Linked DNA regions of Homo sapiens. The protein of the gene in region 1 purifies or fractionates together with the protein of each later gene. This does not show direct contact. Each region holds a gene or a part of one and is shown in the gene's direction. Other genes may lie near its edges.

What was found. The genes of interacting proteins can lie anywhere in the genome.
Region 2: the proteins of PRAP1 (region 1) and CD48 purify together in Homo sapiens (affinity purification with mass spectrometry; 3 studies listed by BioGRID and IntAct, with this or other methods). This does not show direct contact.

Annotation. Positions count from the first base shown.
Region 1 is NC_000010.11:133,343,539-133,350,435, forward strand, and holds the start of PRAP1 (proline-rich acidic protein 1 isoform 1 precursor), read left to right. Parts: upstream 1-3,834; 5' UTR 3,835-3,879; coding exon 3,880-3,887; intron 3,888-6,556; coding exon 6,557-6,623; intron 6,624-6,897. Other genes in the region: ZNF511-PRAP1 readthrough, read left to right, coding at 6,557-6,623. UniProt on the Homo sapiens protein: Lipid-binding protein which promotes lipid absorption by facilitating MTTP-mediated lipid transfer (mainly triglycerides and phospholipids) and MTTP-mediated apoB lipoprotein assembly and secretion.
Region 2 is NC_000001.11:160,708,782-160,716,217, reverse strand, and holds the start of CD48 (CD48 antigen isoform 1 precursor), read left to right. Parts: upstream 1-4,395; 5' UTR 4,396-4,454; coding exon 4,455-4,536; intron 4,537-5,729; exon of another isoform or gene 5,730-5,794; intron 5,795-7,436. UniProt on the Homo sapiens protein: Glycosylphosphatidylinositol (GPI)-anchored cell surface glycoprotein that interacts via its N-terminal immunoglobulin domain with cell surface receptors including CD244/2B4 or CD2 to regulate immune cell function and activation.

The DNA of each region.
Region 1 (6,897 bases):
GAGAGAGCCGATTTATCAGGGCAGAGAGAAACTGCAACACGGAAAGTTTAATTCACGCGGAGCCGGCTGAACGGGAGGCTGGAGCTTTATCACTACTCAAATTTTAAAGGATAATTTGGTGGGTAGGGGTTGGGAAGCAGGGAGTGCTGATCGGTTGGGTTGCAGATGAAATCACAGGGAGTCGAATCTGTCCTCTTGTGCTGAGTCACTTCCTGAGTGGGGGCCACAAGACCAGGTGAGCCAGTTCATGGATCTGGGTGGCACCAGCTGTTCCACCAAGTTCAGAGTCCGAAAAATGTCTCGAGCACCAATCTTAGGATTTACAATAGTGATGTTTTCCCTAAGAATAATTGGGGAGGCTTAGAATCTTGTGGCCTCCAGCTGCCTGACTCCTTTTTTTTTTTTTTTTTTTTTTTTTGAGACGGAGTCTCGCTCTGTCACCCAGGCTGGAGTGCAATGGCGTGATCTCTGCTCACTGCAAGCTCCGCCTCCCAGGTTCAGGCCATTCTCCTGCCTCAGCCTCCCGAATAGCTGGGACTACAGGCGCCTGCAACCACGTCCGGCTAATTTTTTGTATTTTTAGTAGAGACGGGGTTTCACCATGTTAGCCAGGATGGTCTTGATCTCCTGACCTCGTGATCCGCCTGCCTCGGCCTCCCAAAGTGCTGGGATTACAGGCGTGAGCCACCGCGCCCGGTCCTGCCTGACACCTAAAACATAATTTCTTTTTTATTTTTCATGAAAGCCACTGACTTTCTTGATCTAAAAAACTTTACAAGGACAGTGACTGTTCTGCCAAAAAAGGAGCCAAATAGTATCAAATGGACTGAAAGTGAGGGTGGAGGTGAGGGACGGGGCCAGGAATCCATTCAGGAAAGCTGGTAACTGTCACCAGGGAAAGTGAAAAAGGAAGGGGGAGACATGCAAGAGTGAGAGTCCAAAAAAGTTGAAATGGTTAGGGGAGAAAACTCCCAAAAGACCCAGAGTGCGTCAGACGTGAGTATGACAATAGCAATCTTCTCCTTTGTAGAGGACAGGGGAGGAGTCCCGACTCGGCTACAAACTCTGGGTGAGGGCTGGGGATTGAGAGCTTCCTGGAGAGCATCACAAGAAGGCATCGCATGCTCTCGAAGGCATCCGAAGTCCCGGGACTGCTTGGTGTTGGCACCACGAGTCCTTTGGCCATTCCCGGAACAGGTCTTCATCTTTCCTCAGCACCAGAAACTGGCCAAGGACAACATAGGCCTTGTCAAAGCCCCTTTCCTCCAGCTTCTTGCCCAGGACTTCACCAATCCTGGCCAGGCTCCCCACTAGCTTTTCCCCCATGGGCTCTGCCCTGAAGTCTCGGTGCTTTTGGGAGGTTGGCATCTTGATCAGGCTTAATCGGCAACTTCAGTTCCCGTAACGGTTCCTCCCGCCACCCGGCCGCTCCGGCCGATACCTCAAGCCACTAGAAGTTTCCTAAACCATAATTTCTAATCTTGTGACTAATTTGTTAGTTTTACAAAGGCAGTCTGGTCCCCAGGCAAGAAGGGGGTTTGTTCAGGAAGGGGCTGTTTTCATCTTTGTTTCAACATTAAACTATAAACTAAGATCCTCCCAAAGTTGGTGTGACCTACACCCAGGAATGAACAAGGACAGGTTGGAGGTTAGAAGCAAGGTGGAGTCGGTTAGGTCAGATTCACTATCAGGTTTTCGCAAAGGTGGTTTCAGGAGCAGCCCCAGGCAAGAAGGCCAGAGGAACATCTGTTCTCACCCAAGCCCAGCGGCTTCTTCGGGTGACCCCTCCTCAATAGCTCAGACGCTGTGGGTCACGTTGGAAATTCCTGAGTTGGCCTTTCTTGAGGGCCCTCACTCCACCCCCTTGGAAGCACGGCCTCCAATTGTGTCTGAACATGCAGCTTCGGGAGAACCATACCCTGCAGGCCGGCGGTCTCAGAGCCCCCAACAGTAGCTGCCCGCTGGGGGTTGTCGAGGAAAAGAGTGAAACCCTGTAAAATACTTGGAGAGTGATTCTGAGCCAAATATGAGTGACGGAAGGCCCATGATGCCGTCCCAGGAGATCCTGAGAACATGTGTGGCCCGAGAGGGTTGGGGTGCAGCTGGTTTGATACATGTTCGGGACACGAGACATCACTCAGTACGTGGGAGATGTACATGGGTTTGGTCCAGAAAGGCGGCGGGTGTCCAGGTCATTGGTGGATTCAGTAATTTTCCAATTGACAATTGGTCAAAAGAGTTAAGTTATTATCTAAAGACCTAGAATCAATAGAAGGGAAAGTCAGGGTTAAGATAAGGTGTTGTGGAGACCAAGTATATGCAGATAGAATCAATAAAAGGGACTATTTCTTGTCAGAGTCTGTTCTATTAGTCTTAAGGTCTCTGTTTTAATGTTAATGCTGGTCAGTTTTGCCTGAATTCCAAAAGGAGGCGGGTACAATGAGGCCTGTCTGACCCCCACTTCCCATTATGGCCTGAACTAGTTTTCAGGTTAACCGTGGAATGCCCTGGGCTTAGGGAGGGTCCATCAGTCGGGTGGGGTCAGGCGGAGATTGGAATTGTGTTTTTGTTTTACAGGGTGTGCCAGGGACGGCTAAAGAAGGTGGTCAGGGCCGGGCGCAGTGGCTCATGCCTGTAATCCCAGCACTTTGGGAGCCCGAGGCAGGCGGATCACTTAGGTCAGGAGTTCGAGACCAGCCTGGGCAACATGGCGAAACCTCGTTTCTATTAAATATACAAAAATTAGCTGGGCGTGTTGGTGCACACCTGTAGTCCCATCTACTCAGGAGGCTGAGGCGGGAGAATCACTGGAACCCAGGAGGCGGAGGTTGCAGTGAGCTGAGATCGCGCCACTGCACTCCAGCCTGGGTGACAGAGTGAGACTGTCTCAAAAAAAATAAAATAAAAAAGGCAATGAGGGCACTGGGCCCCGTGGAGCGGGCCCTGGCCACACAGCGTGCAAGACTCCTCAGGCTGGTGTGCCCAGTAAGGAAGGACAGGAGGGAGCGCCTGGAAGGGGTGGGGAAGGTGGTGGCGTTGGGGGTGAGGGTTCCACGGTGGTGGAGCTGAGCTGGTCCCGCCCTGCCGCAGGTGGTGGGCAGGGGCAGGTGTGACAGGCAGGTGGGCTGGGGCTGGATGGGGGATTTGTCACGCCCACCTGAGGAAGGAAGTGCTTCAGCTGAGCTGGGGACAGCTGCCCACGACACCCTTCCAAGTTGCCTTGGTTGTGAGCACGGTTCAGCCTTCATGACAAGCAGGTTTTTTTTTTTTGGTGTTGTTTTGTTTTGTTTTGTTTTTTGACTGAGTTTCGCTCTTTGTTGCCCAGGCTGGACTGCAGTGGCGCAATCTCGGCTCACTGCAACCTCCGCCTCCCAGGTTCAAGCAATTCTCCTGCCTCAGCCTCCTGAGTAGCTGGAATGACAGGAGCCCACCACCACGCCCACTTAATTTTTTTTATTTTTAGTAGAGACGGAGTTTCACTATGTTGGCCAGGCTGGTCTCAATCCCCTGACTTCAGGCAATCCACCTGCCTCAGCCTCCCAAAGTGCTGGGATTACAGGTGTGAGCCACCGCGCCCGGTCAACAAGCATGTTTTTAAAGGCAAATTTCTTCCTCAGTCGTGTGGCAGGCCCTGAGCAGGCAGCTGGGTGTCCCCGCTCAGATCCAGGCCCGAGTGGGCTGGGCGGCTGCAGAGCCAGTCACCTGAGCTACCCAGGGTGGGATCCCTGGCCCCGACCTCTGTCCTGACACGCCCCAAGCGGCAGCAACAAAGCCCCAATTGGCCTGGGCCTGGGCAGGAGGAGCTGGGCCGGGTGCCAGATACTGGGATCAGCCACTGCAGCTCCCTGAGCACTCTCTACAGAGACGCGGACCCCAGACATGAGGAGGTAATGCCACCATCCCTGAGCCCCAATCCCCACCCCACCCAAACCTGGAGGCCTGGCCCTTAGCCAGAGGGGGCCCAGCTGTGCTGCGCTCCAGGGGGCCTGGTTCAGGGGAGTGTGCGGGTGGGAGGGAGAAGGAGGGGCCCTCTGAGGGTCTGGGGTCTGCCACCAGGCTCTACCTCCTCTGTGGCCCCGAGTGCACTTGCCTCTTGGTTCCCCTGGCCTGGTGGAGAATCACCCAGGGACCCCCACCCGGAACAAGGAAAGGGGAGGTGCCAGGCTGAAACCAGCAGGCCTGTGACTGCCCAAAAGGAAGGGGGCTGGGGGAGGGGAGGGGCTGGGGCGCAGGAGCCAGGGGCTGCCCTGAGGTGGTGTCACCCTGGGAGCTGTGATCTGGAGCTCAGGGAAGCACCCGGGCTCCCGCTGGACCCTGGAATCAGAGGCTGCCTTCCTTCTGTGGGGGTGTCTGTCTTCCCCCTCCTTGTGTGGGGGACCCCTCTCCCCGCTCCTGTGGAGGTGCCCTCCTCCTCTTCCCCCTCCTCTAAGCCAGGGCCCTCCCTGCCCCTCCTCTCCTGGTGTTTCTCCCTTGTAGAGAGGTGGCTTCTGGGTAGCTTGGGGACCCTTTGGTGCCCAGAGCCGTTTGCCTGGAGAGGGGACCCACGGGGATCCCACAGCCAGGCTGCTTGGCAGTCACCACCGACCACCTTTCTAGGGGCTACCGTGACCCGAATCCCAGGCCCCCAGGCTGTGTGTCATGGGAGGTGGGCACCAGGGGTGGCCCAGGCAGCACGGCAGTGGGATTGGGGTCCAGTGCCCAGACAAGAGCCCCTGCCCAGCATCAGAACCAGCTGGGGGTCCTGAGGAGAAGCAGGGCCCCCGAACCAGACCAGACCAGGTCCCGGCCCCGGGCTGTCCGGGGCATCCCCCCTGCCCTTTGACCTCTCACCATGGCTGAGTCACCCAGAGAACGGGCAAAGGTCCCTGTGGAGCTGCAATCCAGGCCTGCAGGGTGTCCCAGACACTGATTCTTCTGCCTCAGCAGGAGTAGCTGCGATTACAGGTGTGTGCCACCACCCCCAGCTAAGTTTTGTTTTTTTTTTTTTGAGACAGAGTGTCTCGCTCTGTCGCCCAGGCTGGAGGGACTGCAGTGGCGCCATCTTGGCTCATTGAAACCTCCACCTCCCAGGTTCAAGTGATTCTCCTGCCTCAGCCTCCCAAGTAGCTGGGATTACAGGCACCTGCCACCACGCCTGGCTAATTTTTTTTTTTTTTTTTTTGTATTTTTAGTAGAGACAAGTTTTCACCATATTGGCCAGGCTGGTTTCGAATGCCTAACCTCAAGTGATCTGTTGCCTCAGCCTCCCAAAGTGCTGGGATTACAGGCGTGAGTCACCGTGCCCAGGCAGTTTCATATTTTTAGTAGAGACGGAGTTTTGCCATGTTGGCCAGGCTGGTCTCAAACTCCTGACCTCAGGTGATCTGCCCACCTCAGCCTCCCAAAGTGCTGGGATTATGGGTGTGAACCACTGCGCCTGCCCCAGACACCCTTGACTGCAGCCCTGCTGAGCCCTGTACAGACCCAGAGCCCCGCCCCACCCCAAGACCACCCCACCCTGACAGACGCAAGCCTCCCCCGCAGGGCCCTGAAGAGACAAGTCTGCACCACATCACACACGCACGCACACACAGACACACTCCCAAACCCTCACACTCTACACACCACACACGCATGCACACAGCACACACCCACCCCCAAACCCTTACGCTCCACCCCACACACAACATACATACACATCCAACACATACATGCACACACAGCACACACACACACCCAAGCCCACACACTCCACACCACACACAACATACACACACATCCACCACACACAAACACACATAACATACACACACAGCACACGCACCCCCGAACTCACACACTCCGCACCACACACAACATACACATGCACCACACACTGAAGCACACAGTGCACACACACCCGAACACGACACCACCCACAGCATACATGCACACCCACCATGCACATGGTCCACACCCACAAAACACACATGCACAGACAACATATGCACACCCCCCACCACATACACAAACACACACATCCCGTGTCCGAACTGACCTGACACCCTGCCTGCCTGCCTAATAGTGCTGCCATTCACCCCTGAGCCCCCCAGCCGTGGCCCCGCAGCTCTGGGACACAGCAGGTGCCCTGCCTGCAGCAGCGTGCAGCCTCAGGGCTCTGTGGGCGTGGGGCTGTGGGCCCTCGCTGCTCCATACCCACCCATACCCACACCCATGTGCAAGTGTGTTCATGTGTGTCCCCACGTGGAGGGCGGCACAGAGGCATGGCAGAACCTCTGGAGTTTCCAAGCCAACCACCAGTGCCTGCCACAGTGGGGTCTGCCCAGACTGTGAGGAGCAGAGTCTGGGGCTGGGGCTGTGGGCTCTGGCCTGAGGGGGGCTGGAGGCAGGTGGGCCTGGGGCTTCTCCCTGTTCTGTGCCTGCGTGTCTTGGCCCATGTGAGCACAGTCCAGTAAAACTACCTGCGCTCCCAAGGAGGAACCCAGCCCAGGCCTCCCAGCTGCCCATCAGGGTGCTGCCTGGAGTTCAGGGCGTCCCCTTCCCCTACCTCACACTTCCCTCTCTGGCCCCCCCTCAGGCTCCTCCTGGTCACCAGCCTGGTGGTTGTGCTGCTGTGGGAGGCAGGTGCAGTCCCAGCACCCAAGGTAGGTGTGAGCCCCTCCCATCTGGGCAGCAACTCCAGTTGTCACCTTCTGCCCCTACAGCAGGGGATGTGGACAAAGGGCCCCTCTTCTGGCTTCAAACCCCAAGCTGGCTTAGGGGAGAGAGGCATGGGTACGCTCATGACTCTTGATGCCTGTGCAGGCATGAGGAGGGGGCAGGCTTCCCTTCCCTGGGGTCAGATGGACAGGCCTCAAGACACCCAGGTGGTCCTAGGTGGATGATGTGGGTCCAGATGAGCCCACATGACCCCAGGTG
Region 2 (7,436 bases), on another chromosome or scaffold:
GATAATATAGGCAAAGGTCCTGGCAAGTACTTGACTTAGTAGATACACAGAAAATAATAGCTTCTGTCATTACTATCACTTTGTCAAAGTCAAGCAGTAGGTCAAGTGCCCACCAGATTAGATACTGAGAAGAGTGTGTATTTTAATTCACATCATGAGGATTGTTGACCTGTACTTCATCTTCTAGGGTCTTTGCAGCCCCACCTCTGGGTATGCCCAAACTTCAGGGATTTCTGCAACCAGGGCTTTGGTGCAAGAACAGCTGATTCACTTAGGGCAGGGAGAGGGCTTTTGAGCCTTTATTGGTCACTTCTCTCAGACTTGTTTTTGAATCTATGCAGAAGCCTAACTAGCTAGTCCTGAACCTCAGAATGGGCACCCATAGTACTTCAGTGCCCGCTGTTACCATGCAAAAGGAGGAAGATTCCTTGGCTTAAGTTTATATTTCATCCTTTGTTTTAACATCAGCCTATATCCCATGGCTATTAATTCACATCTAAGCAGACTGTTGAGAATTATAGAGCTGTTTACTTGTCAATCTAAAAGAAAGAGGCTGAAACACAAAATATGATTTGAAGACTTTACTTGAGCCAAAGGGAGGACAGCTGCCTGGAAGACTCAGACCCAAGTAAAATTGGTTTTGAGCTCTGCTCAGCCTTTGTTACAAGCAGGTTTTTAAAGGCAAAAAAAGTGATACAAAGTTTTTTTTTTGGAATTCTCATTGGTTTGCAGAAATAACATTAATTAGTGATTGGTTACATATTGTTAAGCTGTAAGGTGTGGGTTATATGTCCAGTGCAGCATTATTAGATTAATTTATGGTTACTTGCAGCAATAGCAAGTAGTTTTAAGAGGTGAATACATAGCCCAAAGGTGGAGTAGGGGGAAGTAAAATGTGATTTCTGTCTCATTTAAATGTCTCTCTGATAATTTGAAGGACTCACATTCTTCAGATAAAAGTTCTTTCCTTTCTTCAACTTTTCACAACAACATTCAAAGGAGGTATTTTAACATTTATTTTTATTTTTACTTTTAGTAGAGATGGGGTTTTGCCATGTTGCCCAGGCTGCTCTCAAACTCCTGAGCTCAGGCAATCTGCCCTCCTCGGCCTCCCAAAGTGATAGCGACAGGAGACAGACAAATTCCTGGACAGATAGAAAAGGGTCCCTGGTGAAACTAGACTTTCAAGACAAAGACAGTTTAAAGCCTGAAAACTGGGCTGCCAGTTCTGGGTAGAGTCCACAACCAGAGTGAGAACTTCCTTGATACCTTTTAGCTAATCGAATGGTGCTTTTTCCAGGCCTGCCTATGGACAAATCTGAGCCGATGAAAACCCCAGACTCAGCCTCACAGAGGGCTACCTGTTTTGGGGCCCCTCTCACACAGTGGTCTACCCACTGTCTGGTCCCCTCTTTGCTGAGAGCTTTCCTTCTGTCACTCAATAAAATTATTCTCTGACCTACTCACTCTCCTTTGTCTGCATGCTTTATTCCTCTTGGTTGCAGGACAAGAACCCAGGACCTGCTGAGCTGCAGGTGGCAGGAACAAGCTGTAACATACCCGTATTTGCTGAGCTGTGGGCACTGGGACCAAGTGAGAGCTGTGACACACCCCCATTCACTGAACTGCAGGCAGCAAGACTAAATAAGAGCTGTGACATGCCCCCATTTGCTGAGCTGCAGGCAGTGGGACTGAACAAGAGCTGTGAGGTGCCCTCATTTGCTGAGCTGCAGGTGGCAGGAACAAGCTGTAACATACCCGTATTTGCTGAGCTGTGGGCACTGGGACCAAGTGAGAGCTGTGACACACCCCCATTCACTGAACTGCAGGCAGCAAGACTAAATAAGAGCTGTGACATGCCCCCATTTGCTGAGCTGCAGGCAGTGGGACTGAACAAGAGCTGTGAGGTGCCCTCATTTGCTGAGCTGCAGGTGGCAGGAACGAGAGAGAGAGCTGTAACATTTCTTGGGGTCTCAGGCCTTGGGATTCCCCAAGCAAAGCTGTAACACCCCTTAGGGCTCCGCAGTTGCTGGCATCTCCGAGTTTCTTAGTGCCACTGTGTTCCCTTCATTTAGACACTGGTGCCCAAGGTGGAAGCAGGTCACAGCACTCCCCGTCCTGCCACTGACTGAGTGTGGATCCTATGGCTCAGGAGTTCAAGACTGGCCTGGGCAACATGGTGAGACCTCATCTCTACAAAAAATTTTAAAAAAATAGCCATGCATAGTGGTCACTGTACTCCAGACTGGGTGACAGAGTGGGAGCCTGTGCCCCCCTCCCCCCAAAAAAGAGAATGTAACATTAATTTACAGGGTCTCTTTTAAAAATCTAATACAATGTTATCTTTTCTTGCTGAAGGAGCAGGGTCGTATCCTAAGGTTAAATCAATTTATAGGAAAAATATAACACACAGTTCCAAAGTGTAACAATTTGACCAAGAGGAATTTGATTCTGGTGCTGTTTCAAATTTTATTTGCAGGGTTCTTTCTTTTCACTTTTATGTTTTTTTCCCTTTTATTTTTAGTTGACATATAATAATTATACATATTTATGGGATACAGAGTAATATTTTGATACATGTATTCAATGTGTGATGATCAAATCAAAGCAATTAGGATACCTATCACCTCAAACATTGATCATTTCTTTGTGTTGGGAACATTCCAAATCCTCTCTTCTAGCTTTTTGAACATATACATTAAATTATTCTTAACTGTATTCACTCCATAGTGCTACAGGATGCTGGAACTTATTCCTCTTCTCTAGCTGTAACTTTGTATCTATTAACCAACTTCTTCCCATCCTCCACTTCCCTCTACCCTTCCCAGCCTCTGATAACCACAATTTTACTCTCTACTTCTATGAGCTCATTTTTTAAGCTTCCATATATGATTGGGAACGTGGTTTTTTATCTTTCTGTGCATGACTTATTTCACTTAACATAATGTCCTTCAGGTTTGAGGACTGAGAAGAGCAGACATTTTATTGTTCATCTCCATGTTGAGAATCAGAAATGTCCCCAATTAAAAAGTGATTACAAATATGTTATATCAGGAACTGTGGCTTGCCTGTGGGTCCTGGGTGGGCAAATAACTAATTTACATTCAATAGGAATGAGCTTGAAATTTCCTAGACATGATATGATTTGGCTGTGTTCCCTTCCAAATCTCATCTTGAATTGTAGTTCCCATAATCCCCACATATCATGGGAGCAACCCAGTAGGAAGTAAGTTAATCATACGAGCAGTTACCATCATGCTGTTCTCGTGATAGTGAGTTCTCACTAGATCTGATGGTTTCATAAGGAAGGGGCTTTCCCCATTGCTGCTCAGTGCTTCTCTTTCCTGCCACCGTGTGAAGAAGGACGTATTGGCTTCCCCTTGCACCATGATTGTAGGTTTCCTGAGGCTTCCCAAGCCATGCTGAACTAGAAGTCAATTTAACCACTTTCCTGGCCAGGCACAGGCCCATGCCTATAATCCCAGCACTTTGGGAGGCTGAGGCAGGTGGATCACTTGAGGTCAGGAGTTCAAGACCAGCCGGGCCAACATGGTGAAACCCTACTAAAAATACAAAAATTAGCTGGGCATGGTGGTGCTTGCCTGTAATCCCAGCTATGTAGGAGGCTGAGGCAGGAGAGTTGCTTGAACCTGTCAGGTGGAGGTTGCAGTGAGCTGAGATTGCACTGCTGCACTCCAGTCTGGGCTACAGAGTGAGACTGCATCTCAAAAAAAAAAAAAACCAAAACAAACAAAACAAAACAAAACCCCTCTCTTTCCTTTATAAATTACCCAGTCTGGGGTATGTCTTTATTAGCAGTGTGAGAACAGACTAATACAGACTACAAGGGTGGGAAATCCATTCTTTTGGGCCAAGTAATCTTACTTTTTTTCTGATGTTCAGTGGATAGGCTGATGTCAAACTTCAAATAGTGAATTATCATAAAGGAAGAAGAGCAGAGGGTGGTGCTGGGGGTAAGATATGCAGCACAAAGGCTACGTGGGTCTGATTTCCCAGACTTCAGGCTCTGAATGACACCTACCCAGGCTTGACTGGGAAGCTCCTATGTCTTAGCCCCTGAATTAATCAGAGGGATTCCTGCCTGGGAACGAAAAGCAGACATTCTCTATCAGGGTCCCTTATTCTTTTCTGAGTACTGGCCCCCCTGAGAGTACAGTAGAAGCTATGAATCTTCCCCCTACAAAAAAGCACTCATGTACCTTCAAACAAAATTGTTCTCAGTTTCCGTGATGCTCTTAGATAAAAAAATTTACAAGACCTCCGGTTTCTGGTTTCTGGGGCCCCACACAAGTGTGCTGGGTGGAGAGAAAATCTCAGTGGTTTTTTTTTTTTTCTCTCTAACCCTGTTTGGTAAGTTCCGTTTTTAGCCCCGGCCTTTTTCTAGCCAGGCTCTCAACTGTCTCCTGCGTTGCTGGGAAGTTCTGGAAGGAAGCATGTGCTCCAGAGGTTGGGATTCGTGTCTGGCTCTGGAATTGCTACTGCTGCCTCTGTCACTCCTGGTGACCAGCATTCAAGGTACTTTCCACCAACTGTGTATCTGTGATTGTGCACTGAAGGCATGGTCAGTTGGGAAAGGGGAGACGGGATGTAGTTCAACCCTAGAAGCCAGATCTGGTGTCTGGAAAGCAGGTATTTCCATTCCAATAGCATGGCCATGGCATGGTTGGGGAGCCTTTCTTAGCACTGATGAATGGAGCTTCATCTCCTTTCCCACGGGGATGTGATCAAAACAGGAACCTGGGGAGCAAGAGAAGTAGGCTCCTCATATTTTGTCCCGTGGTTGGTGGTCCATGAAGTTGTGGAAAAGTGTTTGTTTTTTCATTTTGAATAAGAAGAAGCTCTACACTGACAGCTGCTGCATTTTATGCTCAGACACACTGTACTCCCTTAGGCATTCTTTGAGACCTCTGTATATGTGAGGTGTTGCATCCTGAGCCAAGGTAAATGATATTGTCATTGACCCAAAGAAAAGATAGATCAAAATTATAGGAAGAAAAGCTTGGAAAGGATTGCTGTCTGGGGTCTCTGAATGAGGGTCTGAGAAGAGGCTGGAAGTGCTTCAGCATCAAAGGAACCTTAACACATCTGATTGCTAAGAGTTAAGGTCCATTCCTCTGCCACAGCCTGTTCGGTCCCCGGTGTGTGACCAAGGGCTGAGCTAACTTTCCTTCTCCTGTTAGAGCTGCCTCACCCTCTTTCTTCATCCAGTACCTCTCTTCTTATGCCAGCTGAGAAACAGCAGTGAAACCTTTGACTTTCTTGCTATTCCCCCAAGTAAATACTCAAGTCTTTTTAATTTAAAGGGCTTTAATGCTCACCACTCTGAGTAAAACAGTAAAAATCAACAAACATGTGGTAGTCACACTGTGGCATAAAATGATGATAGTTTGTAACTTTTGGGGAGATGAGGTAGAATGTGTGGAGGATCGGTCTCTCACATATTCTACCTCTCAGGTAGAGTCCTTTGGTTCATGACTGTGTGAGTCTACGGCTATATAGGTTCTGTGGGCCTGACTCAATGCATAGGACATTGGTATGACCTTGGGATTGGGGGCTGATGTGAAGTATTCATCTAACTATTGGGAAAAGCAGGGTTGCCAATGAGAATTGGAATATTTTAGGACTTTCTCTAGGCATACTGAAAACATCCTGACAGTTGACCTTTCTCTGACTTCTTTTCTAGGCTTCATCTTGGTCATTTATTCTTCTTTGAAACAATCAGACCACACCTGATTATGTTATCCTTTGAATGGATAATATTGGTTTTGATGAGGTTAGTAAACCTGGGTTATAACACCCGGGCTATAACCTGGGTTAGTAAAATACAAATTAAGCACTTACTGTGTGTCAGACATTGTGCTAGGCCTTTTGCATACTTTTTCATTTAACTTTCATTAGAAAATAGTGAGGTGGCTATTATTATCTACATTTTTCAGATGAGAATACTGTCTTGCAGAGAGATTAAGAAATTCTCCTAAGGGCACACAGGTCTAACTTCCAAACCATTCTATTATGATTATACCTTTCCTAGACTAAGGCGAGGGAATCTTGGTGAAGGTCAATGTGTCTAAATCTCTTAATTTTACTGTTTGCCTTAAAAGAGGCGTTTTCTCTTACCTCTGGGCTTATGTACATGCCTTCTTTCCACCTAGATTTCTCTCCCTCCTGCCCTCTCCCTGCCTCTCTTTTAGGCTTCTGTTTTTATGTGACTTCTTCTTGGACTGTCTGCCTGTGACTGTGTTCTGAAGGCATGGTTAGATGGGAACCTCAGGCTCCAGATTATGGTTTGTGAATTGCTTGGTGGATCATCTGTTTCCTTGAACTTTTTGAGGACAGAAACCATGTGCAGTGTTGTGCTGCTGAACTTAGCACAGGCCTGGAGTGTGGCATGTGCTCAATAAATAATTGTTACACAAATGAATGAACAACTTCAAAAAACTTCCTTTTGGACTACACATCCATATCTTCCTGAGAAGTGCAAGTAGTTCTCTCCTCTGCCGTAAGGGATGCTTCTGTGGAAAACTTTGAGAAGCACTCTTAGCTCTCTTCTTCCTTCTCTCCTCAGACTTGGGTTTCTCAGTTCTTTGGTTTCAAGGCAATGATTTAGGGCATGCTCCACAACTACCCAATTCCCCATCTGTCCACAACACTTAGCAGGATGAAGTAGACAGAGTATTGTACTAGAAATGAGATGACCTAGTTCTATCTGGGTTCCATGCTGTGGAATTTTCAACAAGTCATTAAAGCTTCCTGAGCCTCAGCTTCCTCAGCTCCATAATGGGTATAATAATCTGTTCCTCATTTCTTCAAGGGGTTGCTATTAAGATCAAATAAAATAAAAAATGTGCAATTGCTTTGCAATTGTGACACATGCGGAATCCGATACAGATGAAAACCTGGGAAGAGCATCAGTAAATTCTTAAGCCCCAAGCAGTCTCCTGAGCCCAAGATCAGAACTTCTGTCTCTTAAACATCTTCTCTAGACTCTCCAGACACGTGTCTAAAACTTAAGTCATCATCTCTGTTTCCGCTATGTATTGCTATTTAACAAGCTGCCACAATACCGTGGCTTAAAATAATAACAATGATTTACTTTGCCCACAGATTTGGGGGAAGACTGTTCATCCTGTCTCACTTTCATGTGCTTTTCATGTGCTTGCAATCAGATCATGGTGTGGCCTAGAGTCATGCAAGGCTCTTCACTCACAGGGCTACTGCCTGAACAGAGGGAGGCTCAAAGTGCTGGGTGGCTAGTGCCACTCAGCAGAAGCCTCCCAGAGTTGGTGTCCCAAGAGAAATAGGCAAATGCTGCATGGTCTTTTCTAAGCTAGCTTTGCAGGTCACACTTCCGGTGTATTCCATTCATTGAAGCCATCACCGAGCCTACTCAATTTCAAGGTGAAGGGGCACAAAGT